Homo sapiens: one gene and its partners. The protein of the gene in region 1 interacts with the protein of each later gene in a pairwise test. Each region holds a gene or a part of one and is shown in the gene's direction. Other genes may lie near its edges. The genes, in order: ADRA1A, TPCN2, ANO8 and GDE1.

Evidence for each region.
Region 2: the proteins of ADRA1A (region 1) and TPCN2 interact in a two-hybrid assay, tested with the Homo sapiens proteins (one large-scale study listed by BioGRID and IntAct).
Region 3: the proteins of ADRA1A (region 1) and ANO8 interact in a two-hybrid assay, tested with the Homo sapiens proteins (one large-scale study listed by BioGRID and IntAct).
Region 4: the proteins of ADRA1A (region 1) and GDE1 interact in a two-hybrid assay, tested with the Homo sapiens proteins (one large-scale study listed by BioGRID and IntAct).

What each region holds. Positions count from the first base shown.
Region 1 is NC_000008.11:26,855,585-26,863,429, reverse strand, and holds part of ADRA1A (alpha-1A adrenergic receptor), read left to right. Parts: intron 1-4,224; exon of another isoform or gene 4,225-4,398; intron 4,399-4,647; exon of another isoform or gene 4,648-4,737; intron 4,738-4,994; exon of another isoform or gene 4,995-5,076; intron 5,077-7,845. UniProt on the Homo sapiens protein: This alpha-adrenergic receptor mediates its action by association with G proteins that activate a phosphatidylinositol-calcium second messenger system. Its effect is mediated by G(q) and G(11) proteins.
Region 2 is NC_000011.10:69,063,411-69,071,255, forward strand, and holds part of TPCN2 (two pore channel protein 2), read left to right. Parts: intron 1-484; coding exon 485-557; intron 558-4,092; coding exon 4,093-4,195; intron 4,196-7,019; coding exon 7,020-7,085; intron 7,086-7,845. UniProt on the Homo sapiens protein: Intracellular channel initially characterized as a non-selective Ca(2+)-permeable channel activated by NAADP (nicotinic acid adenine dinucleotide phosphate), it is also a highly-selective Na(+) channel activated directly by PI(3,5)P2 (phosphatidylinositol 3,5-bisphosphate).
Region 3 is NC_000019.10:17,326,142-17,333,986, reverse strand, and holds part of ANO8 (anoctamin-8), read left to right. Parts: intron 1-186; coding exon 187-297; intron 298-432; coding exon 433-565; intron 566-747; coding exon 748-886; intron 887-960; coding exon 961-1,057; intron 1,058-2,575; coding exon 2,576-2,692; intron 2,693-2,771; coding exon 2,772-2,899; intron 2,900-2,997; coding exon 2,998-3,159; intron 3,160-3,482; coding exon 3,483-3,635; intron 3,636-3,735; coding exon 3,736-3,862; intron 3,863-3,972; coding exon 3,973-4,028; intron 4,029-4,155; coding exon 4,156-4,230; intron 4,231-5,003; coding exon 5,004-5,825; intron 5,826-6,106; coding exon 6,107-6,298; intron 6,299-6,417; coding exon 6,418-6,549; intron 6,550-6,641; coding exon 6,642-6,752; intron 6,753-7,845. UniProt on the Homo sapiens protein: Does not exhibit calcium-activated chloride channel (CaCC) activity.
Region 4 is NC_000016.10:19,503,639-19,511,483, reverse strand, and holds part of GDE1 (glycerophosphodiester phosphodiesterase 1), read left to right. Parts: intron 1-539; coding exon 540-645; intron 646-3,704; coding exon 3,705-3,797; exon of another isoform or gene 3,798-3,829; intron 3,830-6,391; coding exon 6,392-6,603; intron 6,604-7,845. UniProt on the Homo sapiens protein: Hydrolyzes the phosphodiester bond of glycerophosphodiesters such as glycerophosphoinositol (GroPIns) and glycerophosphoethanolamine (GroPEth), to yield a glycerol phosphate and an alcohol.

The sequences.
Region 1 (7,845 bases):
AATAATAAGTATTAAAACAAACACTTCTCTTATCCAAAATCATCCGGGAAGTTGCAGATAACACTGTTTGAAAATAATACAGTACACATAATGTTACAAATCCAATTTTTGCAGATGCTAAATTAGCTGTTGTCAAAATTAATTAGCTCATTATAAGTATCAGCAAGCTGATCCACTTGGAATAGACATCTATCTCCTTCAATGAGATCCCAAAATGGTTGTGTGCTATTTTTAGTTTGTAAGCTCAAATACAGACCCAAACATCGATTATCCACCAACTCTAAAAAACAAAACATTATGCCTAACATTAATAAAAGTCCATTTCAAGTGCTTTACAGCCTAATTTAAATGGCATATACTTAAAGTACTTTAATTTGCAACTCTGTGGAATAATAGCAACTATTATTTTTTTGTGCCACTTATGTTCCAGACATTTTCCTAAGCTTTTTATTTCATTAGTCCCCTCGACAACTCAGTGAGTTATACACAATTATCCTGCAATCACAAGCCATGGGAAGGGATTCTTCAGGTTCTAATACCATAGCCACCAGCCAAGGATAGCTATTTAAATGTTAATTGAAATTAAATAAAATTCTTTCAGTTCCTCAATTCCTCAGTCCCACTGACCACATCTCAAGTGCTCCATAGTCACACGTGGCCAGTGACTACTGTTTTAGACAGCAGAGATATAGGTCATTTCTATCATTGCAGAAATGTCTGTCCTGTAGGGCTGCCAGAGAGGCCCTCCTTAATCCAATACCTGGCCTTCCATTGTGCCTGCCCATCATTATTACTTACTCTGCTCCTGGAAGTACATCACAGCTTTGAAATTATAGAAATTACACTCTTTACCTGAGCCCCTTTGCACACGTATTCATGCGTGTGCTCGCTCAACAAGTATTTATGGACCATCTGTTCTAGGCACTTTGGATGAACAGGGCAGAAAAGTCCTTGCCAATGAGACGGTTGTATTTGGAAAGGGTAGACATAAGCAAATGATTGTATCCTAAAATGTCAAGATTAACATGCACTATCAAAAAATCAACAGGATGAGAGGCTAGAAAGTGACAAAGACAATGAGGGCCTGCTTTAGTGGGTAGTGGGGAAAATTCTGTCTAAAGAGGTGATATTTGAGCAGAGTCCTGACTGGACTGAAGAGCAAAGCTTGCAAGATCTGGGAAGAAGAGCTTCCTGGGCAGAGGGAGCAGCGAGTACAGAGATGGGAAAGAGCCTGACCTGTTCAATGAAGATCACAGAGGCCAGTATGGCTCAACTACAGACAGGGAGGGGGCAGTCAAGTTCAAGAAGAGATTGGAGAGATAGACAACACCAAAGTCATATGGGGTCTTTCAGGCCAAAGTAAAGTTTGCATATTATTCTAATTGTGGTGGGAAGTCATTCAAGGGTGTTTAGCAGGTGAGTGGCCAGTCTCATTTATATTTTTGAAGGATCATTCTGGTTGTTGGGGGGAAAATTGGCTGTTTGGGGGCAAGAGCAGAAGCAGAGACTAGTTAAAAGGCTATTAGAAGTCGAGGGGAGAGAGGTCATGACATCTTGGACTCAGGTGAGACAGGTAGAGGTGGTAAGACGTGATCACATTCAGCACTTATTTTACAGGTAAAGTTGATGAGTGTGGACAAGGGTGTGAGAAATAGGTAGGTTTAGGGCCTGAATAGCTGAGTAAATAGTAATGCACTTCACTAAAACTGGCAAAACCAAAGAGTTATGTGGCTGCAAGGGGCTGCAGGGAGTGAGAAGTATGAGCCTTTCTTTTGTATCACTGTGTTGAGAAACATTCATTAGACATGGAAGTAGAGATGGCAAGTAGGGAGTTATACACTTTACATAGATTTGGAGCTTAGAGAGGAGGCGGGCTACAGATATAAACTTGGGATATATCAACATCTTTAAAGCTACAAGAATGGAGAGGTTGACAAGAGAAAAGATAAAGAGAGTAAAGAGAGATAAGAACAGAGCCTCTGCACCTTTAGTCCCAGCTATTTGGGAGGCTGAGGCAGGAGAATCGCTTGAACCCGGGAGGCAGAGGTTGCAGTGAGCCGAGATCATGCCTGCACTCCAGCCTGGGTGCAGAGCGAGGCTCCATCTAAAAAAAAAAAAAAAAAAAACAGAGCCTCTGGGGGTCAGGTCAGGAAAAACAGGAGAAACAGCCAGCAAACAAGATTGCAAAGGAGTAGCCAGGGAGAAGAAAAATCAGGAGAATGTGATGTCCTGGAAGCCTAGTGAAAATGTTTCAAGAAGGCAGGAGTAATCAGCTGTGTCACATGCAGCTGAGAGGTCAGGTTAGAGGAGGACTGGGAGCCAACACTAGATTTGGCAGTAAGCAGGTTTTTAGTGATAGGAGGAAGGCACGTGAGGCTCACAGGTCCAGAGGAGTGATGGAACCAAAAGCCTGATTGTGTACTTTCTAGAAAGAACAAAGGATAAAAAAAGTGGGAACAGGGAAAATAGACAACTCTTCTGAAAGGTTTTGCTATACACTGGAGCTAGGAGATGCGGTGTAGCTGGAGGGGTATAGAGAGAGCTTTCAATGGTGGGAGGTGGGGATATGACATGATATTTATATTCTGATGGGAACGATGGGATAGAGAGAGGCACTGATGGGATAGGCAAAAGAGGCAACGGGATTCAGTGCCCAAGGGGAGCATTGGGAAGTGACAAGGAGAGCAAAGTGTGTGAGCCCTGAGGCAAGTAGAGACAGAGGGAGAGAGATAGTGATCTCTTTAGGATATGTTTATGTCCTCAGTGAAATATGAAGCAAGGTCATCAGCTAAGAGAGAGTCAGGAATGGGGAACGATGGCAGTTTTAGCCTCAGAGAAGGTGTGAAAGATTCATCTTTGAGAGTGGGACAGTAAACATTTTATGGAAGTTTGGTAGAGTCACTGGGAAGTCCTGAAGGCCTATCTGAGATTTACGGTCATAACATTAAAGTACAGCGGGAAGGAGGGTTGTGTGTTTTTCTCTAAGAGCTAAGCAGCTGAGGGATACAGGAGGCAATGCTGAGGACCTACTGTGAGTCCCAGAGAGTGTGTGTGTGAAGAGACACAGACTCGGTCAGGTTAGGGAGCATCCACAGCCAGGTTGTAGAAGGAGCCCAGGTGACGATGGGTGGCCTGAGAGTTTGGAGCTTGCAGTGGTGGCTGAGCTATGCATAGAGATGAGAAACAATGGCCTGGGTCCTGGAGTCATCTAGGGGAGGTGGATGCTCTGACTAGTCATAGCCCGCTCTTGGATTTGCTCTCCCAGGGAGTCAGCAGTGTGGAGGAGAAGATGTTGTGGTGGAGAGAAGTGGTGGTAGACAGGAGCCCTCGGAATCACTGGGCTTCTTTTAAATCCTAGTGAGGTGCCAGGCGCGGTGGCTCATGCCTCTAATCCCAGCACTTTGGGAGGCTGAGCAGGCGGATCACTTGAGGTCAGGAGTTCGAGACCAGCCTGGCCAACATGGTGAAACCCTGTCTTTACTAAAAACACAAAAATTAGCTGGGCATGGTGGTGCACGCCTGTAATACCAGCTACCTGGTAGGCTGAGGCTGGAGAATCGCTTGAACCCGGGAGACAGAGGTTGCAGTGAGCTGAGTCACACCACTGCACTCCAGCCTGGGTGACAGAGCGAGATTCTGTCTAAAAAAAAAAAAAAAAGAAAAATGATATGACAGGAGGGAAGTAGGGAACATACAGTTCACAGGGTCTGAGTAGCTGCTCAGTAGTGCAAAGGATCCCTGAACCTGCCAGTCTGTGGCTCTCAATTTCTTCCTGACACCAATTGAGTAAGAGATGATTTCCTCCAAGAATGTACTGGCTATGTAATAAGCACCAGGCTCTCAGCTACACAGAATAAAAAAGATGAATAAAACACAGTGCCCTCAAGGGCCTCACAGTCTAGTTAAGGAGACAAATTGTCAACAATTATTGCAAGTCTATGACATAGGTGCTCAGAGTGATATTATTACATGGTGCTCAGGATGGTGCTCAGAATGATATTATTACAGTGTGCTAAGGAATATAGCAGTTCATTGTGCCGAGAGGTCACTGAGAAGCTTCTACATGCATGACCATTGACAGAGCAGAGACTTAAAGAAGATGGCACTACTTCTGCTGGGTCGTCAACGAGATGTTATATGTTTTTTTATTAACTGTCTTAAGTATGTTTTTCATGCAAAATGTGAGCAGAAGAATAAATATACTATCATATTATTATATTCAAGGGACATACATTCTTAAATATGACGTGCTGTTTTGGAGAAAAGGGCTGTCGGTCTGCACTAGGCTGCGGGAGAGGAAAGAGATTAAAAACTGAAACCAGGGCAGGGATGAGTGTGCTATCCACAGCTGAGAAGTGAAACACCCATGTTTAATAGGGACTGACCCAGGAAAATCAGGTGAGTAGGCTATTTGACTGCAAAGGTCCTTCCTGTATATTGTGAGAAGTCTCACGTTCCCTTTTCCCAAGCTTCTTTCCACTAAGGCTGGGTTGCTTGCTGCATTGAATAGCATGACTGTTGGGAGGAATCTGACTTGCCTGCTTCCAAGTCTAAATCTTGCTAATCTTGTTCCATTTTTGCATCCTAAATGTTTGGTTGAAATTCAGAATGCCTTCAAGGGAGGGGGGTGCCATGTGCAGTTGTTAACAGTCATTTATACTTTGGAGCAAATGCTTTCAAAAGCAAATTTTGGCCATGGAGATGAGTAGAGAGACTATGACGGTGTCAGCCTTCAACCTACGAAAGAGAAGGAAGGATAAGAACTCTGCTTCTCAGGAAGCTCCAGCATCTAAAGCCTATGAATCATCTTTGTTGATTTCATCTCATTGTCTAGAGCCCACTAGTTCCAGAGGCAGTGTGCTGCTGAATGGAGAAACTGTTGGCCTGAGATTTAAACCTAGGCTTTCTTTTTCATATAACAGGGGATGTTATATAGGTCAGCTGCCCAGCATAGTGCCTAACTCAGAGTAAATGGTAATAAATGTTCATCTTACCAGAATTCAAATGATTCACAGACCATTACTGATGTATGTCAACATGCAGATGTTGCCATGAGGGGTGGATGTCCTTGGCATTCTAAGAAATAGAAAGCATTGGAAAGAAGATGAAAAGGCAACAATCACTGAAAACATAGTTACGTGTCTGAATTCTGGATATGTTATCTGATTTAAACACAAAACCCAGCGTTATTATAGGACCTAAGCCATTGATTGCTGTTGCCACTGAATCAAAGGAGGCAGCATTGGGCTGAGATGTGGCTTACATAGACATAGAATATTTGAGGATTATGTTTATAAAAGAACAGGAGGCAGCACATTGATAGAGCAGAAAAATGTGTTTTAAGATTGGATGTTTGAGGAGGGCACAGCTGGCAGTGGATTTATCAGGTGGAGGCAATGAGGCAGAGAATGATTCATTCATTCATTCAGCAGTTTCATTGAACATATACTGTTTGCCAGGAAGCTATAGAATCACTGGAGATAAAGACAAATAAATCCCTGCCCTAATGGAGCAGAACATCTGAACAATTAGATACCTAGCAAAGGTATATGAAAAATGACAAGGAAAAAGGACAAGTACATACAATGATATATGATAATCCCAAACCCTCTGCGGATGCCCAAGATAACCAGGGGTTGAGGGTTGCTTCACTGCAGGTACAAAGGGAGCAGTTCCCTAGTTCTCATGGAAAAGGTTCACCTCTTAGAGATAATGGTGTGAAGAAAAACTAGTGCCATTAGGATTTATTTTATTTTATTTATTTATTTAATGACAGGATCTCATTCTTTCACCCAGACTGGAGTTCAGTGGTAATCATAGCTCACTGCGGCCTCGAACTCAAGTGATTCTCCCACCTCAGCCTTCTGAGTAGCTGGGACTACAGGCATGCACCACCATGCCTGGCTAATTTTTATATTTTATTTTTATAGAAATGGGATCTTGCTGTGTTGTCCAGGCTGGTCTTGAGCTCCTGACCTCAAGCAATCCTTTTTCTTTAGCCTCCCAAAACATTGAGATTAGAGGCATGAGTCACCACACCTGGCTAGAATTTATTTTAAGATAAGAAGCCAGCGTTTCAGTTACTCTTACTACACCACAGACCATCCCAAAAGGTAGTGGCTTAAAGCAGCAGCCATCTATGTCTCATGATTCTATGGTCAAAAGTACGTCAGCACCCAGCTTGCCTGGCAATTGAAGCTGGCTGTGAGTCTTGGTGGCCTCTGTTCCCTTCTAAACCACCTTCTTATAGCATGGCAGCTCTCCCCCAAGAAAGTCAAGGCAGAAACTGTGAGGCCTTTGAAGAGCTAGGCTCACACCTGGTCCAGCATCACTGCTGTTTCATTCTGCAGTCACAGCAAGTCAGGAGACCAGCCTAGGTTCAAGGGGAAGCGAGACAGACTCATCTCTTGATGGGAGAGCAGCAAGTGTGTACACAGAGGGGCAGATCATTGTAGTCCTCTTGCAGATCACCGACCTCACAAGTGTGCCAAATTACATTTCTCTTTAATCCATCAGTTATATTGAGAACTTCCCATATGCCAGGCTTCATGCAATGCACTGAGTAAAACCAACTGGGATCTTTGCCTCCCTGCAGGCTTCTAATCTCCAGAAGGAGATAGACATTAATCAGATAGCCACACTAAGTTATCGAAAACCGTGTACAGAGCAATGAAGGGAACATAAATGGTGCCTTGAAAATATGTCCTGTGGCTAAGGGTGGTCCTGGACTGGGAGGGTAGAAAGGTCTTTCTGGGAAGGAGGGCTTGACTATTAAGTCCAGATCTATTGAATGAGTAGGTGTTTAAAGGCAAAAATGGGGAGGGAGGGAAGAGAACGTGCGAAGACTTTAGTGGGGCTGGCTTAATGTCCATAATGACTTTCTAGAAGGCCACTGTGGCCAGAAACAAGAGGCCAAGAGATAACTGGTGTCCAGTGAAGCTGGAAAGGGAAGAACCAGACTAAACAAGGCTTTATAGCCATTATACAAGTTTGTGTTTTTATCCAAAGATGAGCAGGAATGACATGATAGAGTTTATACAGCATTTCAAGATTATCAAAGGCTTAGTGAAAACAAGATTGTGGATAGACCAGTTGGGAGACCTTTATGCAGGACAAGGGGAGCTGTATCCTGCCAAGTGCAATCCTTCTACCGTGCCATTTAAAAAACTTATTTCCGTGAGCTGCCACATCGTTCTGGAATGCCTCTTTTGTCACTGCCTTCAGAGCTTAGATTTATGAGAAAAGCTTTCTCGTGATCAGAAATAGTATAACCAGACTTGGCTTTAAATTAATTTTGGCTCTTTCCACAAGACAAATCTGTCAATGAAGATTTACCATCATTTTCAAAAGAACGTGCTGCAGGCTCAGAAGACATCAACAATGAGCTCTAACAATGCTTTGAACAATAGCTGACTCTTTCAAGTCAGGCTATAGACAAGTGAGTTATTACTTGGATGGAGTAATAATCCTTAGTCACTTAGTAACAAAGTCATTGCTGTGTTCTGTCACCTCATGGTTTCATGGTGGATATGAGGACAGTTTTCTAAGGCATTTTCTTTGTCTAACAAGTTTACTGTATTTTAGCCCTGCTATTTGGTTTGCCAGTTTGACACTTGCCTAGTGGCTTTTCATTTTTATGTTTTCTATTTCTTCGCTATTTGAATGTTTCTTTTCTTTTCTTATTTTTTTCTTTAAGTTCTGGGATACAAGTGCAGAATATGCAGGTTTGTTACATAGGTGTACATGTGCCATTGTGGTTTGCTTTACCTATCAACCCATTATCTAGGTTTTAAGCCTGGCATGCATTAGGTATTTGTCCTAATGCTCTCCCTCCTCTTGCCCCCC
Region 2 (7,845 bases), on another chromosome or scaffold:
CTCGTGGCTCTTGTTGCCACTAGAAGCGTGGGGCTCTCTCCCTGCGCCCCAGGCCCAGCCTCCATCCAGCCTCGGCTCACCCCTGGTCCCGATCCCCTGCCGCCCTCCGCTCTTGCCAGTGGCAGCGTTGCCCGAGTCCCTAGTGGCTCACGTGCTGACCCCTCACCATCCAGCTCAGGTGGATGGAAGTGGCCTCCCCTCTGAGAGCCCTGGGTCCTTGGATGCTGTCTCAGCTGGGCCCCCAGGGTTTCATTTGTCACTGTCAAAGAAAGGACCCTGCCAGGGCACGACCAGGCCTTTCCTCTGGGCCCCATGAGCTGAGCATGAGGCAAGGCCCTCGGGGAGAGGGGGACCCAGCTGCTGCCTGGATCCACCCCAGCTGCTGCAGACTCTTGGGCGCTCCTGTCACCGAGCCCTGCAGGCAGGTCAGGTGTCCCTGCCTGCCCGCCGCCTGGCCCAGGCTGAGTGCCGTGCTCTCCCCCAGCGTCGGGCTGCTGCTGGCCATCCACCTGTGCCTCTTCACCATGTTCGGAATGCTGCTGTTCGCTGGTGGGAAGGTAGGGCACCCGTGGTCAGGGTCTGGGAATGGGGCTGCCCTGTGCTGTGACTAACAGAGGGGGCTGGGCTGGTGTCTGCTGCCCTGGCCTAACCCATGTGCGGACTCTGTCCAGTAATAGCAGTGGCCCATCTGGGGTCCAGGAGTCTGCCTTTGGGTGGCCACAGTGCTCCACCACCCCACTGCCCAGACACCTGTCTGCCCTGGGGTCTCCTGGGCTCAGGGCCACTTGTCCTTTGTCCTGGCTGTCCGCTCCCACCCTCCTCTGCTCCCTCCCATCCTGACTCAGTTCCCCTATCCTCCTTCCCACTTCCCTCCCCCCTCCCTATCCCCCGCCCCTCCCCGCCCTTCCCCGCCAGGCTATTCACTGAGGGTGGGTCCTCTGGTTTCTCCTCCAGCCCTGTTCATCCTTCCTGACAACCAGGCTTGCCCTGTACCCTCTCTGACTGCAGCCCCCAAGGCTGCGCTGGCCTACTGGGAGGGCCCTCACCTCCCACGCCCTCTCCTGCCACTAGTCTCTCCCACCATATCCTCCTCTGCGGCTGCCCCGGGGCCCAGCAGCTCGTTGCTGTGTGGAGGCGTCTTCCTGTCCCCCAACCCCGCTCCAGTGCTATGTGTTTGTCCTCCTGTCCTGGCCGAGGGCACCATCCTTCTTGGGGCTGGGGCCACGCTGCATCTCTGCTGCTTTGTTGTGGGAGTGGACAGTGCTCAGCCTGCGCTGCTGTTCCTGTTTGTGGCCGTGTTGGGGTTTGGTGTGTGTTGTCCAGAAGGGGAAGGCTGAAGCCCGCGTTCTCACCCAGGGCGGAAGCGGTCATTGAGCCCCTGTGTGGCTCTGCATGTGTGTGTGGAGTCTGCATGTCTGTGTGCATGTTTGTTTGTATGTGTAGGTGTATGGTGTTTATGTCTGTGTGCGTGTTTGTATGTGTGCATGTGTAGTGTCTGTGTGCATGGTGTCTGTATGTCTGTGTGTGTGTTTGTATGTGTGCATGTGTAGTGTCTGTGCATGGTGTCTGTATGTCTGTGTGCGTGTGTGGTGTCTGTGTGCATGGTGTCTGTATGTCTGTGTGTGCGTGTGGTGTCGTGTGTGTGGTGTGTCTATGTGTGCATGCATGGTGTCTGTATGTCTCTGCGTGCGTGGTGTCTGTATGGCTGTGTGCGTGTGCATGTGTGTGCGTATCTCTGTGTGTATGTGTGTGTTTGTGTGCCTGTCTGTGGGTGGTGGGGGCAGCTGGGTTGTGGAGATGGAACCGGCTGACAGAATCTCAGGCCCTCCTCTGTGTGACCGTCCAGTGACCCCTGCAGTAGCGCTGTTTGCCAGAGCCTGTACCAGGTGGATGGCGTCAGTGTGGGTGCTGGAAGTGGCAACAGCCTCGGCCTTGAGGCCAGGGTGTGGTCCTCGACCCCGGGAAAGCCGAGTGTCCCATCCTGAGGCACCTGGAAGGGTTGGCTCCTCCTCCAGGCGTGGGTTTCTGCCCCACGAAGGGGACCTAGGGGAGCAAGGTGTACCTTGTGTGAGGGGTGCGTGCTTGTCGTGGTCTTGGCAGGAGTCTGGATCCCTGTCCGAGGCAGGACTTGAGAGGAGCGTGGGATGGTACCCGGCCCATCCTGCCTTCCTTCCCTGGCCATCATGCCCTGCCACCCTGGCCTGGGGCGGTAGCCAGGCTGTGCTTCTGGGTGCAGCGGCCGCCTTGCTTTAGCTACCTTTGTGAGTGCGGTCCAGAGCCAGCCTGCTTGTCCTCTGCTGGCTTTGCTCGTTGTGAAGCTCCAACCTGGATTGATTTCCAAGAACCAGGGTTGGTGTTGGGGTGTGTGGTCTCCCAGCAGCCGTGATGGTGCTGTCCCATTTTACAGATGTTTCTCAGGTCGGGGCTGTGGGCTGGCTCGGGTCCATCGTCGCTGGTTGTGGCAGGTTGGGCAGGAGCCCAGGGCTCCTCTGTGTCCCTGCAGAGCTGTGGCTTGGGCTGGGCAGGAGGTACGGGAAGTCATGCCTAGGGTCTGGAGCTGAATTGTAGAGGAGGAGCGTGAGGCCTGCTGGGAGGTACACAGTGTGGGGTGGGAGATGGGCCGGGGCAGGGCCACCTGCCTTAGGGAGTTCTGTCGGCTCTATGGACCTCAGCGTCTGTTAGGTGGTGTGCCTCAGCTGGCTCGAAGCCTGGCCCTAAACCTTGCTCCATGGGCGCTCGGTGGGTTGCTTTACATTTGGGAACGTGGTGGTTTGACTGGGTGAGGGTGGGACGGGGGATGCCCGGGAGGCCTGGACCCAGTGCTGTGGTCCTGCCGTCCCCGGTGACTGCTGGAGGCCAGCCTGCCCTCCAGGCCTCGGAAGGCCTTGCTCTGCTCCTCCACTCTGGCTTGGGCTGAGGCCCAGGAGGGGCCCGCCTAGCTCTCCCCAGCAGGGGAGCCTGTCCCTACCCGTGGCTCTGTGCCTGACAGCGCTCCCTGCCTTCTAACTTCCTCTCAGTGGCCCCTGTGCCCCCTCCCCCAGCAGACTGTGGAGTCTTCACCAATTAGCTCACGTGTCCTTGGGAGCCCCTGACTGGACAGACGAGGGGACAGTGCCATTTTATAGGTGAGGCCTTGGAGGCCTCAGTGCTATTGATGCGGCTGTGAGGCAGGAAGGGCGGCCTGTGCGACAGAGAGTGGCCATCACAGGTGCCTCCATGCCAGGGCCTGCCTGCGGGGTTGCCCCTTGGCCAGCAGCTGGGATTGTGGCTTTGAAACGATCCCTAAGAGAGGAGGTTGCTTTGTGTGCCAAGTCCCGCTGTGCCACCTGCCCCCACAGTTCATACAACCAGTCTGGTTTGCGGGAACCACCCATCTTCCAGCTGGGGGGTCTGGAGGCTTGGTAGGCAGAGGGTGCCCATGAGCCTGGCCCCAGTGAGAGCCCCGGGCCCGGAGTCTCAAGCAGAGTTGCTTTCCGAGCAGAAACACTGCATGTGCCAGCTGTGTTTTGTGGCTGGGACCCCTCTCAGGAGGGAGAGAGGATAGGGACTCCGGTGTGGATGCCCCCTTACCAATGGCTGTGATTCGCCACAGCCACGAGCACAGTGCCACTGAGTCCCGTGGGTGGCTATGGGCGGCCGTGGGCCCTGACACACAGCCTCTAGAGCAGGCTTCACGAAGGGTCCAACCTATCTCACCCTGGCAGCCTGGGCCCCTCTGCTCCTCCTGCCCCTCCTGCCTCTGCCCCGTAGCCTCACTGCTTGCACAGTGCATGGCAGAGTCGGCTGCGAGCAGGCGAGGTGGCCTGAGGGAGGTCACTAGGCTGGCTGAGGGCTTTTTGCTGTGGTTCTGAGCCGGCCTGCTTCCAGGCACCGTGTCCATGCGGGTGAGCGGTCTCCCTGGGTGCCCACTCTTGCGCCCGGAGATCCTGAGTTTGGTCCTGTCTGGCCATGAGCTCAGCCTGCTGGGAGGCCACAGGGAGATGCAGGCTGGGCGGCGGGTGGATGGTTCCAGCCGGTTGGGTCCGGGGCCTGGAGCTCAGCCTGTGGGGTGGGGACCCAGTGGTGCCCTGGAGCTGCCGCTTCTGCTCTTAGCAGGATGATGGGCAGGACAGGGAGAGGCTGACCTACTTCCAGAACCTGCCTGAGTCTCTGACTTCCCTCCTGGTGCTGCTGACCACGGCCAACAACCCCGATGGTGCGTGCAGGGCCAGGGAGGGACCGTGGGGGTCGGTGAGCCCAGCACTGGGGGGCCGGTTTGGGCTGCTGAGCCTTAGAACCCAGTGGGAGTTTCTGAGGCCTTTTTTTCGATAAGTGGAGAAGAAAGGGTGACATTTTCCTTCCTCCCCTTCTTTTCCTATCTCTTCTTTTTTTGTCTTGGTTTTCTTCTCCCTCTCTCTTGTCCCTTCTCTTTCCTTCTTTCCTTTTCTGTCTCATTCCTTTGCTTTCTCACTCCCTCCTCCCTTTTTCTTTTCATCTCCTCTTCCTCCTTGTCTACTCACTCCTCTGAGAAGCTGAAAGTGGCTGGTGTTCTTCATAGGGCGATGATGGCAGTGGTCAGAGGGGTCTCCTGGTGCCGTCCTGCTGGAGCTCCACACATCCACGCTGCGGTTGCTGCCGAGGTTCAGCTGTGGGAGCCACTGGGCAGCAGCATGTGAGGGCCAAGGGTCTTACTGGCCACGACGCTCACCCTGTGTGATGCTCATGGGGCCTCCACTGCTCAGGTGCAGGTGTGGCCAGGATGGAGGCCACGGTCCTGGGCTTGGCTGTGGCCCAGCCACCCTGGCTGGTGCCTTTCATCTTGCGGACCCTGAGTGCTGTCTCTTGTGTCCTCTGAGTCCTAGGAAGTGACCGCAGTGGGAGCAGGACCGTCTGAGTCCTAGGAAGTGACCGCACTGGGAGCAGGGCCGTCTGAGTCCTAGGAAGTGACCGCACTGGGAGCAGGACCGTCTGAGTCCTAGGAAGTGACCGCAGTGGGAGCAGGACCGTCTGAGTCCTAGGAAGTGACCGCACTGGGAGCAGGACCGTCTGAGTCCTAGGAAGTGACCGCAGTGGGAGCAGGACCGTCTGAGTCCTAGGAAGTGACCGCAGTGGGAGCAGGACCGTCTGAGTCCTAGGAAGTGACCGCACTGGGAGCAGGACCGTCTGAGTCCTAGGAAGTGACCGCAGTGGGAGCAGGACCGTCTGAGTCCTAGGAAGTGACCGCAGTGGGAGCAGGACCGTCTGAGTCCTAGGAAGTGACCGCAGTGGGAACAGGACCGTCTGAGTCCTAGGAAGTGACCGCAGTGGGAGCAGGACCGTCTGAGTCCTAGGAAGTGACCGCAGTGGGAGCAGGACCGTCTGAGTCCTAGGAAGTGACCACAGGGGGAGCAGGACCGTCTGAGTCCTAGGAAGTGACCGCAGTGGGAGCAGGACCGTCTGAGTCCTAGGAAGTGACCGCACTGGGAGCAGGACCGTCTGAGTCCTAGGAAGTGACCGCACTGGGAGCAGGACCGTCTGAGTCCTAGGAAGTGACCGCACTGGGAGCAGGACCGTCTGAGTCCTAGGAAGTTACCGCACTGGGAGCAGGACTGTCTGAGTCCTAGGAAGTGACCGCAGTGGGAGCAGGACTGTCTGAGTCCTAGGAAGTGACCGCAGTGGGAGCAGGACTGTCTGAGTCCTAGGAAGTGACCACAGGGGGAGCAGGACTATCTGAGTCCTAGGAAGTGACCGCAGTGGGAGCAGGACTGTCTGAGTCCTAGGAAGTGACCGCAGTGGGAGCAGGACTGTCTGAGTCCTAGCAAGTGACACAGGGGGAGCAGGACCGTCTGAGTCCTAGGAAGTGACCGCAGTGGGAGCAGGACCGTCTGAGTCCTAGGAAGTGACCGCACTGGGAGCAGGACCGTCTGAGTCCTAGGAAGTGACCGCAGTGGGAGCAGGACCATCTGAGTCCTAGGAAGTTACCGCAGTGGGAGCAGGGCCGTCTGAGTCCTAGGAAGTGACCGCAGTGGGAGCAGGACCGTCTGAGTCCTAGGAAGTGACCGCAGTGGGAGCAGGACCGTCTGAGTCCTAGGAAGTGACCGCACTGGGAGCAGGACCGTCTGAGTCCTAGGAAGTTACCGCAGTGGGAGCAGGACCGTCTGAGTCCTAGGAAGTGACCGCACTGGGAGCAGGACCGTCTGAGTCCTAGGAAGTGACCGCACTGGGAGCAGGACCGTCTGAGTCCTAGGAAGTGACCGCAGTGGGAGCAGGACCGTCTGAGTCCTAGGAAGTGACCGCAGTGGGAGCAGGACCGTCTGAGTCCTAGGAAGTGACCGCACTGGGAGCAGGACCGTCTGAGTCCTAGGAAGTGACCGCACTGGGAGCAGGACCGTCTGAGTCCTAGGAAGTGACCGCACTGGGAGCAGGACCGTCTGAGTCCTAGGAAGTGACTGCAGGGGGAGCAGGACTGACTGTGGGGAGGGCTGCAGGGAGGTTTCAGCTCTGTGTGCAGAGGGACATCCTTGATAGGTAGGGAGTTCCCCGTCCTGGAGGGTGTGCGAGCAGAGGCAAGAGATCGAATTTGGACAGGAAGGCCTTTCAGCCCTCCCAGGAGACCTCCTTTCTTTTTTTTCCTTTTCTTTCTTTTTTTCTTTCTTTCTTTTTTTTTTTTGTTTGAGATGGTGCCATGCTCTGTCACCCAGACTGGAGTGCAGTGGTGCAGTCTCGGTTCACTGCAACCTCCACCTCCCAGGTTCAAGTGATTCTCCTGCCTCAGCCTCCCGAGTAGCTGGGTTTACAGGCATGAGCCACCACACCTGGCTAATTTTTGTATTTTTAGTAGAGATGGAGTTTTACTATGTTGGCCAGGCTGGTCTCGGAATTCCTGACCTCAAGTGATCCACCCGCCTCAGCCTCCCAAAGTGCTGGGATTACAGGCGTGAGCCACCACGCTCAGCAATGGAGACCTCCTTTCTATTGCAAAAGCAAATAGTGTAGCGTCAGGATGGGAGTGGGATCAGGTACTGAGGTTGTCAGTTTCTGTTATTTCTTTTTTCTTTTAGTGATGATTCCTGCGTATTCCAAGAACCGGGCCTATGCCATCTTCTTCATAGTCTTCACTGTGATAGGTGAGTGCAGGTAACGTGGCCAGCATTTTGTGACAGGATCCCGAGAGCTCAGGGACCGATACACCCTGCTGCCTCCACGACCTGAAACTTCACATCCGTGTTTTTCACTCCAGAGATCACCCCAGGGATCCCCTGCCAACAGCTTTTAACCCCAGAGATCCCCCACCAACAGCTTCACCCGAGGGATCCCCCACCCCACGGCTTCACCCCAGGGATCTCCCGCCAACAGGTTCACCCCAGGGATCCCCCACCAACAGCTTCACCCCAGAGATCCCCCACCAACAGCTTCACCCGAGGGATCCCCCACCAACAGCTTCACCCCAGGGATCTCCCACCAGCAGCTTCACCCCAGGGATCCCTCACCAACAGCTTCACCCCAGGGATCCCCCACCAACAGCTTCACCCCAGGGATCCCTCACCAACAGCTTCACCCCAGGGATCCCCCACCCCACGGCTTCACCCCAGGGATCCCCCGCCAACAGGTTCACCCCAGGGATCCCCCACCAACAGCTTCACCCCGGGGATCCCCCACCAACAGCTTCACCCCAGGGATCCCCCACCAACAGCTTCACCCCAGGGATCCCCCATGCCACGGCTTCACCCCAGGGATCCCCCACCAACAGCTTCACCCCAGGGATCCCCCACCAACAGCTTCACCCCAGGGATCCCCCACCCCACACTTTCTGTTCTGTCCCCACCATTGACCTCGTCATCCTCCCACCTGTGACTGCGCTGGCCAGGCCATGTTTCCATTTGATAG
Region 3 (7,845 bases), on another chromosome or scaffold:
TCTGGAGGAAGGCCTGGCTGGTACAAGGACGTGGAGGGAGGAAAATAAGCCAAGCCCAGAGCTCCCGGGGCCTTGAATGCCAGGTGGAGTGGTGAGGAGCCCTGGCGGGGGCAGGAGGAGCCAAGACTGGAGGCCGGGTCCGGATCCCAGAGTGGCCTGACCCGGGCCTGCTACGCCGCCCCCTAGATAAGCTTTTCGGAAAGCGGCTCCTGCAGGCTGGTCGCTACCTGGTGTCCCACAAGGCGTGGATGAAGACGGTGCCTACAGAGAACTGCGACGTGCTGATGACCTTCCCAGGTACCCAAGCCCGCCCGCCCGCCCGCCCAGTGCCCAGATGCGGCTCTCCTGAGCTCGGCTTCCCAGAACGGGAATACGTAGGAGGCCTTGGGCCCCCTCGTGGCAGGAGCCATCGGTCCCTGTGCCCCTTGGCAGACACGACCGATGACCACACGCTGCTATGGCTGCTGAACCACATCCGCGTGGGCATTCCCGAGCTCATCGTGCAAGTCCGCCACCACCGCCACACGCGTGCCTACGCCTTCTTTGTCACCGCCACGTATGAGAGGCGAGTCCCCTGTCCCTGGCCTCTCGCTGAGCCTGCCACCCGACTCCCCGCTCTACCAAGTGCCAACCATGCTATCCAGCCGCCCTGCGTTTGTCCCAAAGGCTGCCAGGTGCACCATCCTCAGCTCCAGGATGGTGGGCCGGGGCCTCCCTGTGAGCCCACCTCCTCCGCCTTCTTCACAGCCTACTCCGAGGGGCCGACGAGCTGGGTCTGCGCAAAGCAGTGAAGGCCGAGTTTGGCGGGGGCACCCGCGGCTTCTCCTGCGAGGAGGACTTTATCTATGAGAATGTGGAGAGCGAGCTACGCTTCTTCACCTCCCAGGTGAGGCCGGCTCTGGGCCCCCGCATGCATCCTGTGCCTATGAGTTCCCTGAGCTCACGCCCTCTTCCTCGCAGGAACGCCAGAGCATCATCCGCTTCTGGCTGCAGAATTTGCGTGCCAAGCAGGGAGAAGCACTCCACAACGTGCGCTTCCTGGAGGACCAGCCAATCAGTGAGCAGGGCGGGGTCAACACCAATCACAGGCAGAGAGTTGGGTGGAGCTCTTCAAAGACAGCTTATAGGAGCAGGAGGGCGGGGCCCAGATCCAACCAGTCAGGGGTTGGCAAAGAGTTAGGAAACCAATGAGCTAAAGGGGTGTGGCCTTAGCAAAAGGGTGGAGCTTATCTCCTGAGTTGGGTGGAGCTCTGAGAGGACAGCTTATCAGGACAGGAGGTCAGGGCTTATGTCCAACCAGTTAGGGGTTGGCAAAGGGTTGGGAACCAATGAGCTGAGGGGGCGAGGCTTTGGCCAAAGGGTGGGGCTTATTTCTGGGAGGTGGGTCCAGGAGAGGCCCTTTTCTGGGTTTGGGATAAAGTGGAGGCAGGAACCATGGACAGCACTCCACTTACAGAGTGGTGCGGCTCTGGGCGTTGGATTCCCCTCCAGGAAACTAGGCACCCAAGTTCACCTTCCGACAGCAAGTTTTTACCATTCCTCAGACGTTCGGGTCCACAAACTGAGCTTTATTTAAAGCAGGGGAACAGGCGCAGTGGCTCCCAGTACTTTGGGAGGTCCAGGCGGTAGCATCACTTGAGCCCAGGAGTTCGAGGTTGCAGTGAGCCATGGTAGCGCCACTGCATTCTGTCCAGCCTGGGTGACAGAGCGAGACCCTGTCTCAAACAAATAAATAAATAAAGTAAAAAATAAGGCCGGGCGCGGTGGCTGACGCCTGTAATCTCAGCACTTTGGGAGGCTGAGGCGGGCGTATCACGAGGTCAGGAGATCGAGACCATCCTGGCCAACATGGTGAAACCCCCATCTCTACTAAAAATACAAAAATTAGCCAAGTGTGGTTGGCGCGCGCCTGTAGTCCCAGCTACTCGGGAGGCTGAGGCAGGAGAATCGCTTGAACCCGGGAGGCAGAGGTTGCAGTGAGCTGAGATCGCACTACTGCACTCCAGCCTGGTGACACAGCTAGACCCCGTCTAAAAAAAAAAAAAAAAAAAAAAAGCCGGGCGCGGTGGCTCACACCTGTAATCTCAGCACTTTGAGAGGCCGAGGCAGGTGGATCACTTGAGGTCAGGAGTTTGAGACCAGCCTGGCCAACATGGCGAAACCCCGTCTCTACTAAAATACAAAAATTAGCTGGGCGTGGTGGTGGGCGCCTATAATCCCAGCTACTCCGGAGGCTGAGGCACGATAATCGCTTGAAGGTTGCGGTGAGCGGAGATCACGCCACTGCACTCCAGCCTGGGCGACAGAGTGAGACTGTCTCAAAAAAAAAAAAAAACATGGTTCCTCACCAGAACCCCACTCTCCCAGTTCCTTTACATTCTCCCCGCCTGCCCCTGCACCTACAATTTCTGAAGGAGAATCAGATCTTCTATCCGTCTAGAACTTCTCCCCTGGAAAGAGCTCTAGAGGTTTAAGAGCAGGCAAAAAGCTGTGACTTGGGTTTCAGACAAAGAGGGGCTAGCCAGGCTAGGCACAGGTGGAGGGGCGGGGATCACCTGTGCTCCTCCCTCCACAGTCCCGGAGCTGGCAGCACGTGGGATCATCCAGCAGGTGTTCCCTGTCCACGAGCAGCGTATTCTGAACCGCCTCATGAAGTCATGGGTGCAGGCCGTGTGTGAAAACCAGCCTCTAGGTGCTGCCTGGGCTGGGGGGTGGGAGGGAGTCCCAGCAGACAGGCAGGGGGTGACTGAGACCCACTTGTCCCCTGGCAGATGACATCTGTGATTACTTTGGTGTGAAAATTGCCATGTACTTCGCCTGGCTGGGCTTCTACACGTCGGCTATGGTATACCCAGCTGTCTTCGGGTCTGTCCTGTACACATTCACAGAGGCTGATCAGGTACTGGGCAGGGACCCTGCAAGGTCTGGGGGATCCAGAGGCGCCCTCCTTTCTGGACTGGCACAAACAATGACTCAACTCTTCTCTGCCACTCACAGACAAGCCGGGATGTTTCCTGCGTGGTCTTTGCCCTCTTCAACGTGATCTGGTCGACGCTGTTCCTAGAGGAATGGAAGCGGAGAGGGGCTGAGCTGGCATATAAGTGGGGGACGCTGGACTCACCTGGGGAAGCCGTGGAGGAGCCACGCCCCCAGTTCAGGGTCAGTTGGGGGCTGAGTCCAGGGTCATGGAGACAGGACAAAGGTAAATGGTGGGGGGCACTGCAGGAGCAAAGGCAGAGAGGTGTGAAACAGGATTGTTTCATCAAAGAGGGTATGCCAAACCGAGGCGGGCTCTGTGTGCTCCCCAGGGGGAGAGGTGGAAGTTGGATTTGAGGGACTGGGAACAGTGCCCTAGGTGGGTGACCTGAGAGGGTCACCTCCGCATGATGGAGGGAAATTGAGTTCTGAGGATAGGGAGGGGTGCAGAAGGCAGAGGTGGCCCCTCTGAGCTCATGCTGGGCCCGGTCTTTGCCCACCATCAGGGCGTGCGACGTATCAGCCCCATCACGCGGGCCGAGGAGTTCTACTACCCGCCCTGGAAGCGGCTGCTCTTCCAGCTGCTTGTGAGCCTCCCCCTGTGCCTGGCGTGCCTCGTCTGTGTCTTCTTGCTCATGCTTGGCTGCTTCCAGCTGCAGGTGACCCCCCATACCCTCACCCGCCCTGTCCTTGGTACCTAGCTCCACCTTGGGCTGAGCCCTGCAGCTGGGATGAGCCCTGAACCCCCTTCTCCCGCAGGAGCTGGTGCTGAGCGTGAAGGGGTTGCCCCGTCTCGCCCGATTCCTGCCTAAGGTCATGCTGGCCCTGCTTGTCAGTGTGAGTGCCGAGGGCTACAAGAAGCTAGCCATCTGGCTCAATGACATGGGTACGACCTGCCAGGGGGTCTCTGGGAGGAAGGTCTCCACTGCCCCTTGGGATCCCTGCCACCCTTGGGGGGACCGCGGCTGCCCCCTCACTCCCCCCCTTGGCCCCTAGAAAATTACCGGCTGGAGAGCGCCTATGAGAAGCACCTCATCATCAAAGTTGTCCTGGTGAGTCACCACCATCGGACAGGCAGGGGGACAACGGGGAAGCTGTGCCGTCTGTATGGGGCACAAGGAAGGCTCCAAGGAGTCGGGTGGGGGTGCAGGATGACCACCGCCTGCCTCCTTCCTGCAGTTCCAGTTTGTCAACTCGTACCTGAGCCTCTTCTACATCGGTTTCTACCTCAAGGACATGGAGCGCTTGAAAGAGGTGAGACCCCCGCCCCAGCGGCAGTCCCCCCTGCCCCCATGGCGGCCAGCGAGGGGCCAGACCCGGCACAAGGGGTCCAAGGGCTCTCCAGCCCCTCCCTCCCCTCCTCCATCCTTCTCTCCTGTCTGTCCGTCCGTTGTCCGTCGTCTGTGCGTCCTCTCTCTGCCTGTCGTCCCCCCATCTGTCCGTCCATCTGTCCGTCGGTCCCTTCACAGCTCCTGCTCGTCCTGTCCCTGTCCCAGAGCCTCGAGCGGCAGCTGCAGGCGGTGCTGGTCCCGCTCGCGGCCCTGCGGTTCCGCCTGCTCCTCCTCTCCCTCCGGGGCCTCCTGCTCGCGGCCCGGGCCAAAGTACGGGCAGGTGGCGAGCCCGTGGGTCCTCGCCGGGGTGGGCAGCGTGGCTGTGCTGGGGGCCTGGCGCGCCGAGCTGAGGGCGCATGCGCGGAGGGAATCTGGGGTCGGGGGCGGCCAGCAAGCAGGTGCAGGCGGCTGGGGGCGCACGCGGCCCAGTGCACCGACAGAGCCCGCGGTGGGGTGGAGACGCGCTGGGCCTGCCCGTGAGGTGGGCGAGGAGCGCTGCGCGTGCCAGGCTGTATTTTGTGGCTGAGCGCTGGGGGCCTCGCGTCGAGGCGCGTCCAAAGCAGCGGAGTTAGGAACCGGATTCGGCGTGTGTCTGGGCACGGTGCTCCGGCGGGGCGCCCAGGGAGGGTGAGTCCCCCGATCCCGGCGCCCCGCTTGCCCCCCACGCGCCTCTCTCCTTCCCCTTCCTGCCCCCAGATGCTGGCCACGCTGCTGATCACCCGCCAGTTCCTCCAGAACGTGCGCGAGGTCCTGCAGCCGCACCTGTACCGGCGCCTGGGCCGCGGCGAGCTGGGCCTGCGGGCCGTCTGGGAGCTGGCCCGAGCCCTGCTTGGCCTCCTGAGCCTCCGGCGCCCTGCGCCCCGCCGCCTCGAACCCCAGGCGGATGAGGGCGGGGGCGGCGGCAGCGGGGGCGGGGGCCGCAGGTGCCTCAGCGGGGGCTGCGGGGCGCCGGAGGAGGAGGAGGAGGCGGCGCTGGTGGAGCGGCGGCGGGCGGGGGAAGGCGGGGAGGAGGGGGACGGGCCTCCAGGGGGCAAGGAGGAGGACGAGGACGACGAGGAGGAGGAGGACGAGGAGGAAGAGGAGGACGAGGAGGAGGGCGAGGAAGGGGGCCTCCTGGACTGCGGGCTCCGGCTGAAGAAGGTCAGCTTCGCTGAGCGCGGCGCGGGGCGGCGTCGGCCCGGCCCAAGCCCGGAGGCCCTCCTGGAGGAAGGGAGCCCCACTATGGTGGAGAAGGGGCTGGAGCCGGGAGTGTTCACCCTGGCCGAGGAGGACGACGAGGCGGAGGGGGCTCCCGGCAGCCCTGAACGGGAGCCCCCGGCCATCTTGTTCCGCCGGGCCGGGGGCGAGGGCCGAGACCAGGGGCCCGACGGGGGCCCGGACCCGGAACCCGGCTCCAACAGCGATTCGACCCGTAGGCAGAGACGGCAGAACCGGTCGTCTTGGATTGACCCGCCGGAGGAGGAACACTCGCCCCAGCTCACCCAGGCAGAGCTGGAGAGCTGTATGAAGAAGTACGAGGTGAGGAGGGGGCGGGGCCTCGCAGGGGGCGGGGCCTCGCCGGGGACGGGACACACCGTCCGAGGGTGAAGGCCGTGGGGGTGGGAGTGGTGATAACAGGGCCATTGATGTTGGGATGCTGCAGGAGAGGAAGGCCTAGCCAGATACAGGAAGCCTCTGGGCTGGCTGAGGATGGGGACAGGCCCTGGGTCCACATGGGATAATCTGAGGGAGGCGGGCTCAATGGGAGAAAGATTGTCCCAGGGAAGAGGCTTCCAGGTCTGAGGCCCGCCCACTCGCAGGACACGTTCCAGGACTACCAGGAGATGTTCGTGCAGTTCGGCTACGTTGTGCTCTTCTCGTCCGCCTTCCCCCTGGCGGCGCTGTGCGCCCTGGTCAACAACCTCATTGAGATCCGCAGCGACGCCTTCAAGCTGTGCACCGGGCTGCAGCGGCCCTTCGGCCAGCGCGTGGAAAGCATCGGCCAGTGGCAGGTGGGGGGAAGCCAAGAGATCCGAGCTGAGGCCCAGAGGGAGCCCAGGTGCAGCTGGGAGGAGCCTGGGGTCTGGGGAGGCCGGCTGGACCCCGCCTGAGCCCTCCTGCCGCCCTGCAGAAGGTGATGGAGGCCATGGGTGTCCTAGCGATTGTGGTCAACTGCTACTTAATCGGCCAGTGCGGGCAGCTGCAGCGCCTCTTCCCCTGGCTGAGCCCGGAGGCAGCCATCGTGTCGGTGGTAGTGCTCGAGGTGGGGCCGGCGACAGGGGCGGGGGCAGCTGGGAGGCGAGAGGGCGGCCCCAGCGTCTGCAGCCTGCAGCCTCCTCTCTGCCACCCCTGCAGCACTTCGCTCTGCTCCTCAAGTACCTCATCCACGTGGCCATCCCCGATATCCCGGGCTGGGTGGCCGAGGAAATGGCCAAGCTGGAGTACCAGCGCCGCGAGGCCTTTAAGGTAGGGGGGCCAGGCTGGGCTCGGTTTTCTCATTGGTGGGGCTGCTGGTGGATCTCTGATCTTGGTGGCCAATTCCTTAGCGTAAGGGCAAATGCAGAGACTGCACAGAGCTGGGTATAATAATTAGTGCTCCCTGGCTGGGTGCAGTGGCTCACTCCTATGATCCCAGCGCTTTGGGAGGCCAAAGTGGGAGGATCGCTTGAGCCCAGGAGTTTGAGGCTGCAGCTAGCTATGATTGCGCCACTGCACTCCAGCCTGGGTGATGGAGCAAGACCCTGTCTCTAAAAAGAGTAATAATAAGCAATAATAACTAGTGTTCACAACGGGTCCAGTCGCTTCTGGAATCCTGGCAGCATCCAGCACGAGGCTGGCCCTTCAGAACCTTCAGCCATCCACCAGCTTGCCCGATTGCATCCTGTTAGGGGGCCAGGGACACAGCGGAGGCTTCCTAGAAGCGCAGCTTCTTCCGCATTCCTCAGAAAGCTACAGAATGGGCCAAGGAGCTCCCCAGTGCCTGCACAGGGAACATTCCTCGAGGATGACAATGTCCTTTGTCTGCACTGTCCCTGCAGCCTTTAGCTACAGGTGATAAGTGAGCACGTTGAAGTGCAGCTGCTGCGACCGAGAAACTGAATTTTTATTTTATTGAACAGAGCCTCGCGTGGCTACCTGGGTATAGTCTGCTGCAGCCATAGTCCTTTTTGTTTTTGTTTTTGTTTTTTCTTTGAGACAGAATCTCTCTCACTCTGTCATCCAGGCTGGAGTGCATGGAGTGCAGTGGCACAATCTCGGCTCACCGCAATCTCCACCTCCCAGGTTTAAGCAATTCTCATGCCTCCCAAATAGCTGGGATTACAGGCATGTCCCACCACGCCTGGCTAATTTTTCTATTTTTAATAGAGATGGGGTTTCACCATGTTGGCCAGGCTGGTCTCCAACTCCTAACCTCAAGCAATCTGCCCACCTCCCAAAGTGCTGGGATTATAGGCGTGAGCCACCGTACCCAGCCTGCAGCCACGGTTCTGTCTCTTGCCTGTTCTCTGGGAAGCAGGGGATCGGTTGAGGCTCAGGATTGGTTTCCACTTTACCAATT
Region 4 (7,845 bases), on another chromosome or scaffold:
TCACAAAAATATGTCTAAGTGTATAGCAATAAAAATGTGGAAAAAAGAATATCTATAATTTGGTTCAAATTATTACAGTAGGACAGGCGCAGTGGCTCACACCTGTAATCCTAGCACTTTGGGAGGCCAAGGCAGGTAGATCACTTGAGGTCAGGAGTTCAAGACCAGCCTGGCCACCATGGTGAAACCCCGCCTCTACTAAAAACACAAAAAATTAGCCAGGCGTGGTGTCACACGCCTGTAGTCCTAGCTACTTGGGAGGCTGGGGCGGGAGAATTGCTTGAACCTGGGAGTTGGTAGTTCCAGTGAGCTGAGATTGCACCACTGCACTCCAGGCTGGGCAACAGAGCAAGACTCCGTCTCAAAAAAAAAAAAAAAAATCTTAAAGTAAAGTATCTTTGGACTTTGCTATGGTCGAAAAAAGGAAGTTGGAGAAAACACTCTTTCCTTTTGATTGAGAGACATATGCAAAATGTTTGTTGCAATACAGTTTATCTGTTTCTCTTTTTTCCTACAACGTATTTTCTCTTCTCTTACAGGAATGATTTCCCTGATGAAAAGATCCCTACCCTAAGGGAAGCTGTTGCAGAGTGCCTAAACCATAACCTCACAATCTTCTTTGATGTCAAAGGCCATGCACACAAGGTACAGTTTAAATTGTGGACTTCACTTTGTTAAAAAGACATCTTATTTCATTGACGGTCATTTCCGAAGTTACATATATTTTGTTATTTATTCTTTTTAAAACTTATTTTTATAAATTGTATTTGTTTAATGGAAGTGTACAATGCAGGAATCTATATCATTTAAGGAAACAGTGCATTATGGAACTTTTTAACCTTTTATGGAAACTTTACAAAACCAGCATAAAATGGAAGAGTCAAGTTTCTATTATTTACATAAAGCATTTACAAAAGATATTAAGTAAACAGTAAAAAAGACATTTCTAGAAAAAAACCACTGTAGTAACCTTGAGTTACTTGAAAAAAAGGAATTCCGAAGTTGTACACAAGACCAATTTTATCTAGCTTAAAAGTTAAGGGCCTTATATGGACAACTATGGACTGCATTTAAAGAGAATTCCTATATTAAAAGCTTCTAATAGTTAACAGAACATATACCTTTTACATAGATTTATCCCTTTGTATAATTTATATCCCTTATGTATAGTTTTTTATTCATTGATTTTAGCAGTTATACTTTTATCAGAAAATCATTTATTTTCTTCAAATGTATTTGACATTCCTAGATAAAATTTTGCTTAAATTTTAGGGCCTGCACTTACACTCATAAGAACATATTATTACAGTGAAAATCAGTGGGAAGATATGATTCTGATTACATTTGTTCTCTTATAACCAGCTTTTCAAGTGCAAGTACTTTTTTCCCCATTTGGGCAACTTGAGTATTTTTCCCCTAGCAATATTAATAATCGGTAAGGGCCATCTACTGGTTGAGAATTCTGATGATGCCAATTTTTTTTTTTAATTAATCCCATGATATCATTGAAACCAGTTGTTAAAACCCAAAATGGGCCGGGTGCAGTGGCTCACACCTGTAATCCCAGCACTTTGGGAGTGGATCACCTGAGGTCAGGAGTTCGAGACCAGCCTGGCCAACATGGTGAAACCCCTGTCTCCACTAAAAATACAAAAATTAGCTGGACTTGGTGGCGGGCACCTGTAATCCCAGCTACTCGGGAGGCTGAGGCAGGAGAATCGCTTGAACCGGGGAGACAGAGGTTGCACTGAGCCGAGATTGCGCCAGTAGTACTCCAGCCTGGGTGACAGAGCGAGACTCCGTCTCAAAAAAAAAAAAAAAACCTGAAATGTGGAGCCTAAGTATACACTCTAATTTTATTAACAGTTAATTCCTATTTTTGAAGAAGGAAGATAATGGTAACTAATTTATTATTCTAGTAAACCGATAGTTGTATACGTCTAGGTTTTCCAATTGGTCTGCGTTAGAATCACCTGTACCTATTTTAAAATATAAATTCCTGGGCCATTCTCCCTAGGGAAGAGATTCTGAAAATGTCTAGGGTGGGCTCAAGGAACATGTATTTTTAATGAGCACCTCAGGTGCTCATTGTTGATGTTGCAGCCCACATTTGGGAACCCTGATAGGTCCTACATTTCACCCATGGTATACTGACTTTTATGCTTATTCTCTTAGATTTTTTGAGACAGAGTCTCACTCTGTCACCTAGGCTGGAGTGCATTGGCGCGATCTCGGCTCAATGCAACCTCTGCCTCCGGGGTTCAAGCAATTCTCCTGCCTCAGCCTCCCAAGCAGCTGAGATTAGAGGCATGTGCCATCACACCCGGCTAATTTTTGTATATTTAGTAGAGATGGGGTTTTGCCATGTTGGCCAGGCTGGTCTCAAACTCCTGGCCTCGAGTGATCCGCCCACCTTGGCCTCCCAAAGTGCTGGGATTACAGGTGTGAGCCACCACGCCTGGCTTCTCTTAGAATACTTTTTAAAAAGAAGTAGACATTTAAAAAAGAAAATCTAGCTATTTGAGTCTTCTGAATGGGTGCTCATGGGTGTTCAGCCAAGACTGGGTAGAACATAGTGACCTAATTCACCAAGATGGTAGTAGAAAGGCACAAGTGTAGGCAACAAAGTGGAGCTAGTAGAGCACAGTGGCCAAAATCATGGGCTTGGGACTCCAACAGTCCTTGACTGAGCTCTTACTACAGGGTAACCTTAACTTTGATGAGCTTCAGTTTCTTCATGGGTAAAATGGGGATACTAAAAGCAGTTACCACATAAGGTTGTTGTGAGAATTAAATAATGTAAATGCTAAGAGTTTACAGTGCATGTCTTTGTTCAAACAGAAAAAAAAATGCTTTCTATAGCTTGCCTTCAGTTGCATTAGCGAAGAGGAGGCATGACATGGATAATTTGTGTCCTTTTTTATTTTGGTGGGGGAATGCATTTTGCTCATCATATTTGGTTAGGGGTATGTGTAACATTCCAAAAATTAGCAGTGTTTCACAAATTATGCAGCAGCAGCATTGCGTCCCACATGGCTGGTGACTTTCTTGTTGTTAGCTGCTATTGATGTCACTTCACTAGGGGTTACCAAATAATACTTAAATTCTATCATGTCTTCTTCATTTCGTAGCTAGACTACTATAAAAAGAAACTTCTGTTCACCTTGGGAAGAATTGGGAGCCCCTTAACTCTTCCCAGTCCCTCCTACCCTTGCCCCATTACTTCTCCCTCCATATTGGTGATGGGTAATGCGTCCTCTCAGTCCCCTGGACTGAGAAATCTATCCTCTGTAGTTCCCAGACTGGCTGGCTCATGTTTCATTTAGAAAAGGCACAGAGTGATAGAGCTGTGGGTATGAAAGGACTTTTCATAGTGGCTAAACTAGGGTATAAGGCAAGGAAAATTTTGCCTCTGGCCTCATCTGACCTACGGCTTACCACACTTTTCAAAAGTATTCCAAAAGGGGTGAGGCCCTCAGAGGGAGTAAAGCAGCAGTACTCCACCTTCTTCCTTGTTTGCTGCTGGTGTGAGTTTAAAATGCATCCCAGTGGATAATAGACTCTACCAATACTTTCAGTACCTCCATTTCTAGTAAACTTCTGTTTTATTCCATAGGGTTGTACTTAATATGTGATAGTTATTGGCTGGGGCTATCTATCACATTTTAATCAATTTTAAATATATGAATCTCTTTATTTTACAGGCTACTGAGGCTCTAAAGAAAATGTATATGGAATTTCCTCAACTGTATAATAATAGTGTGGTCTGTTCTTTCTTGCCAGAAGTTATCTACAAGGTAACATTCGGGATTTTTCTTGTACATATTAGGTGAGCTGGTGTAGATAATTGCAATGGGCTGCGTAAGCACAGGATAGATGCCTATTAAATTGAACTGCATCAGGGTCACAGTTGAGAAGCTCCTCTTTTAAATTAACCAGAGAAATTCCAGAAGGGGAATGTACTCATACCCCTTACAGAATGCCATTATTCCTCTTTTGCCCCTTCTTTTATGTTGTTTATAGGCTCACTCAGATTACTGTAGTAAAATTCTCACAACAGAAAAGAATTATGTAGCCCCTACTTCTCACCAACTAACAGCAGAACATACCTTCATAAAATAAATTCTTAATTATGGAGAATCTAAAACATGCATAAAATAAAGTAGTAGTGTACCCCCCCTTTAACTGTGATCCAGCTCATTTCACCCATAACCCCATTGATCCTCCCCAGTGTTATTTTGAAGCAAATCTTATTCCATCCATAAAATTGCATTAAGAATCTTTAAAAAGTGATGCCATTTTATTTATTTATTTATTTATTTATTTATTTATTTATTTATTTTAAAAGACGGGTTCTCCCTCAGTTTCCCAGGCTGGAGTGCAGTGGTGTGATCACAGCTCACTGCACTCTTGACCTTCCAGGCTCAAATGATCCTCCTGCCTCAGCCTTCCAAGTAGCTGGGACCACAGGCGCACGTCACCACGCCCAGCTAATTTTTTATTTTTATTTTTTGTAGAGACAGGGTCTCCCTGTATTACCCAGGCAGTTCTCCAACTCCTAAGCTCAAGCAATCCTTCCACCTCAGCCTCTCAAAGTGCTGGGATTACAGGCATGAGCCACAGTAACCAGCCTAGTGATGCCTTTTTAAAAACATAGCCACAATGCCATTGTCCCATCTAAAAATTATTAACAATAAATTATTCATATCATCAAATATCCAGTGTATAAATTTTGACTTGTCTCGGAAATGTCATAAATGGTTGTTTTTCATAAATTGCTCATTCGAATAGGACCCAAGTAAGATCGGCGTGTTACAATCGTAAATCTTTTTTTGTTTGTTTTTGAGACGGAGTCTTGCTCTGTCGCCCAGTGGTATGATCTCGGCTCATCGCAACCTCTGCCTCCCGGGTTCAAGCAATTCTCTTGCCTCAGCCTCCTGAGTAGCTGGGATTACAAGCACACACCACCATGCCTGGCTAATTTTTTTTGTATTTTAGTAGAGACGGGGTTTTGCCATGTTGGCCAGGCTGGTCTCGAGCTCCTGACCTCAGGTGATCTGCCTGCCTCGGCCTCCCAAAATGATTACAGGTGTGAGCCACTATGCCCTGCCGGCAACTGTAAATCTTAAAACTTGCAGGTTCTGTCTCTCTCTCTCTCTGTTTTTTTTGTTTGTTTGTTTTGGGGGGGGTCCTTGTTTTGTATTTACTGAAGAAACCGGATTATTGTTTTGTAGAGTTTACCCAAGTCCAAATTTTGCTGATTATGCCATGATATGGCTTAATATTTTTTTCTCTTTATTTTCTATAAACTGGTAGCGAGAGCTGGAAGCTTGCCTTGATGAGGTTAGGGTTGGTTATTCTTGGCAAGATAACTCTAGAGATGAGGGTGTTTTTCCGTCAGGAGGCACTTGACATCTGGTTGACTCCTGTTGTTTTTGGCTGCTATTGATGCTCATTGGCCAGATCTGTCCATTTTCTAGGGAGCTACAAAATGCTGATATTTTAATTCTATTACTTCTTGCATTAGCTGAAATAGATCTTTAAAAAGAAACTTTTCCTCCTCTACTATTTAGTTACCAAATAGGCAGAATAAATGCTTTATCTTTCCTTTTATTTACCAGTTTCCAGAATAACAAGCTGGTTCCGTAGCATTCTTTACCAGTGACCAACAGAGCATACATTGAAAATTTTTACAGTGAGGATAGAGCCTATCAATAGAAGCTGTCATGGAGTTGAATAGGGTCATGGGGCTTGCAGACATTTGGAACAGTGTTTCCCAAACTTCCTTGACCACAGAGTCCTTTAAAACGTATAAGACATTCCCCCAGAGGAGCACAAGAGCAGAGACTAAAGGAACTCCATCCACATCTCTCCATTTCTCTGTTGTCCTCTCCCATTCTCTCGTCACAATCCCTTCTCTCCCTTCCCACCTCACTTCCCCATCCCCCTCCTCACCCCTACAACTCTTCAGCCATTTGCTCTGGAAAGGGTCAAAACTAAACAGCCCATCTTGAACTGACCTTGGTTCCCTCCTCATTGAGTTCTAATTAATTATCTCTGGCCAGGATTTAAGTCAATAGCCAATTAAAAGTTTATTCTCATGACATTATTAAAATTTGATCCTGAAGTTTTAATTTTTCCATTTTAAAGATAGGATTGCAGTTTTTAAGGACTGGGAAAAAAAAGTTCTCATATGTGCTGCATATTAGTGCTTTACATTCTTCACATTATTTTCTCAAAGGGTTTATGATTGAGAACTTATTTAGTAGATACCGGGGCAGGGTACCAACCATGACCACCTCATCTGATTGAGCACATTGGCTAAATCTAAACTAATAAGTATTCAACTTTACATATGATCATTATTTTACTTCCCCAAATTCCTTTGCAGATGAGACAAACAGATCGGGATGTAATAACAGCATTAACTCACAGACCTTGGAGCCTAAGCCATACAGGAGATGGGAAACCACGCTATGATACTTTCTGGAAACATTTTATATTTGTTATGATGGACATTTTGCTCGATTGGAGCATGCATAATATCTTGTGGTACCTGTGTGGAATTTCAGCTTTCCTCATGCAAAAGGATTTTGTATCCCCGTAAGTTGGAAGGTTTTTTATTTTACCCAGACAGACATCCTGAATGCTCTTATTTGAAAGGAAGGATTAACAGAGTAGACAACCTGAATTGGTTCTGACCTGCAAAGCTTACCATACCTCTAAATTGGATTACCAATTTCGCTTCTTAGGTGGGAAGAGTTCAGGCATATTTCACTGTTTTCAGACCGAGTCGATCACATATTTTCGGTTTTTTAGTGTATTTTGAAGAAAAAAAATGAACCTGTGACACTATGCTGAGCAAGGGATTTTATTTCTGTGACTGGTTTTTTTGAAAGCCAACACAGGATCCTGGGCAGAACCACAGTGAAGACATCCTGTGGGCACCAGCCTCCCCACTACCGTCTTATGTTATAGGCACTCCCCCACCTCTCCCCATAAAATTTCCATTTCCTAACCTGCTAGCGATCTCGGAATCATTTCTTTGGCAATTCTGTATCTGTATATTTCAGCTAATTAGAGTTGTAGGTCTAGTATTATTTCAGACATACATGATTCAGTTCAATAAATATTTGGTAAGTGCCTATACTATTGCAAGGTTCCATGTTGAGAAGCTGAAGATGCAGTGGGTAAAGAATCAAAGCCATGATCTCTGCCCTCGTGACGTTTATAGCCAAGTGGGAGAGTGAGAGATGCTAATCAAATAAAAATCCAATCAATATAAAGTTAAAACTAAGATACAGGCTATGTCAGAGAAAACTGTGCATGGGCTATAATCTAATCTGGTCTGGGTTGTCAGAAACAGCATCCCCAAGGAAGTGACAGTTAAGCTAAGATCTGAAGGGTGAGTGGGAATTGGGAGGAATCCAGATCAGAGAGAAAAATACATGTAATGTGCTCTGGCAGGAAGGAACATGGTTCTTTCCAGGAAGTGAAAGAAAATTAATATTCTTTCAATTAATTTAAAATTAATCAGCACAGAAAAGAAAGGGGGAATGTGGTGTGAGATGAAGCCAAGGAGACAGGTCGGGGCCAGGTCAGGCACACCTTCAGTGGCTGTGCCAAGGACATTTGGGGGTGGCGATCATTAGTGAGCTACTGAAATGTTTTAAGCTGGGACAGTGTAGAGGAGGTTCATGGCATCCTGGGTTTTGGAACAGTCCCTCTGATCACAGTGCAGAGGCCAGTTAGGAGGCATTCTCTGGGCACCATTGGTATGCAGTGAACACCATACTTAGTGGCCATTATGGATTCCTGAGACAGCTGCTTATTATTCTAACAGGA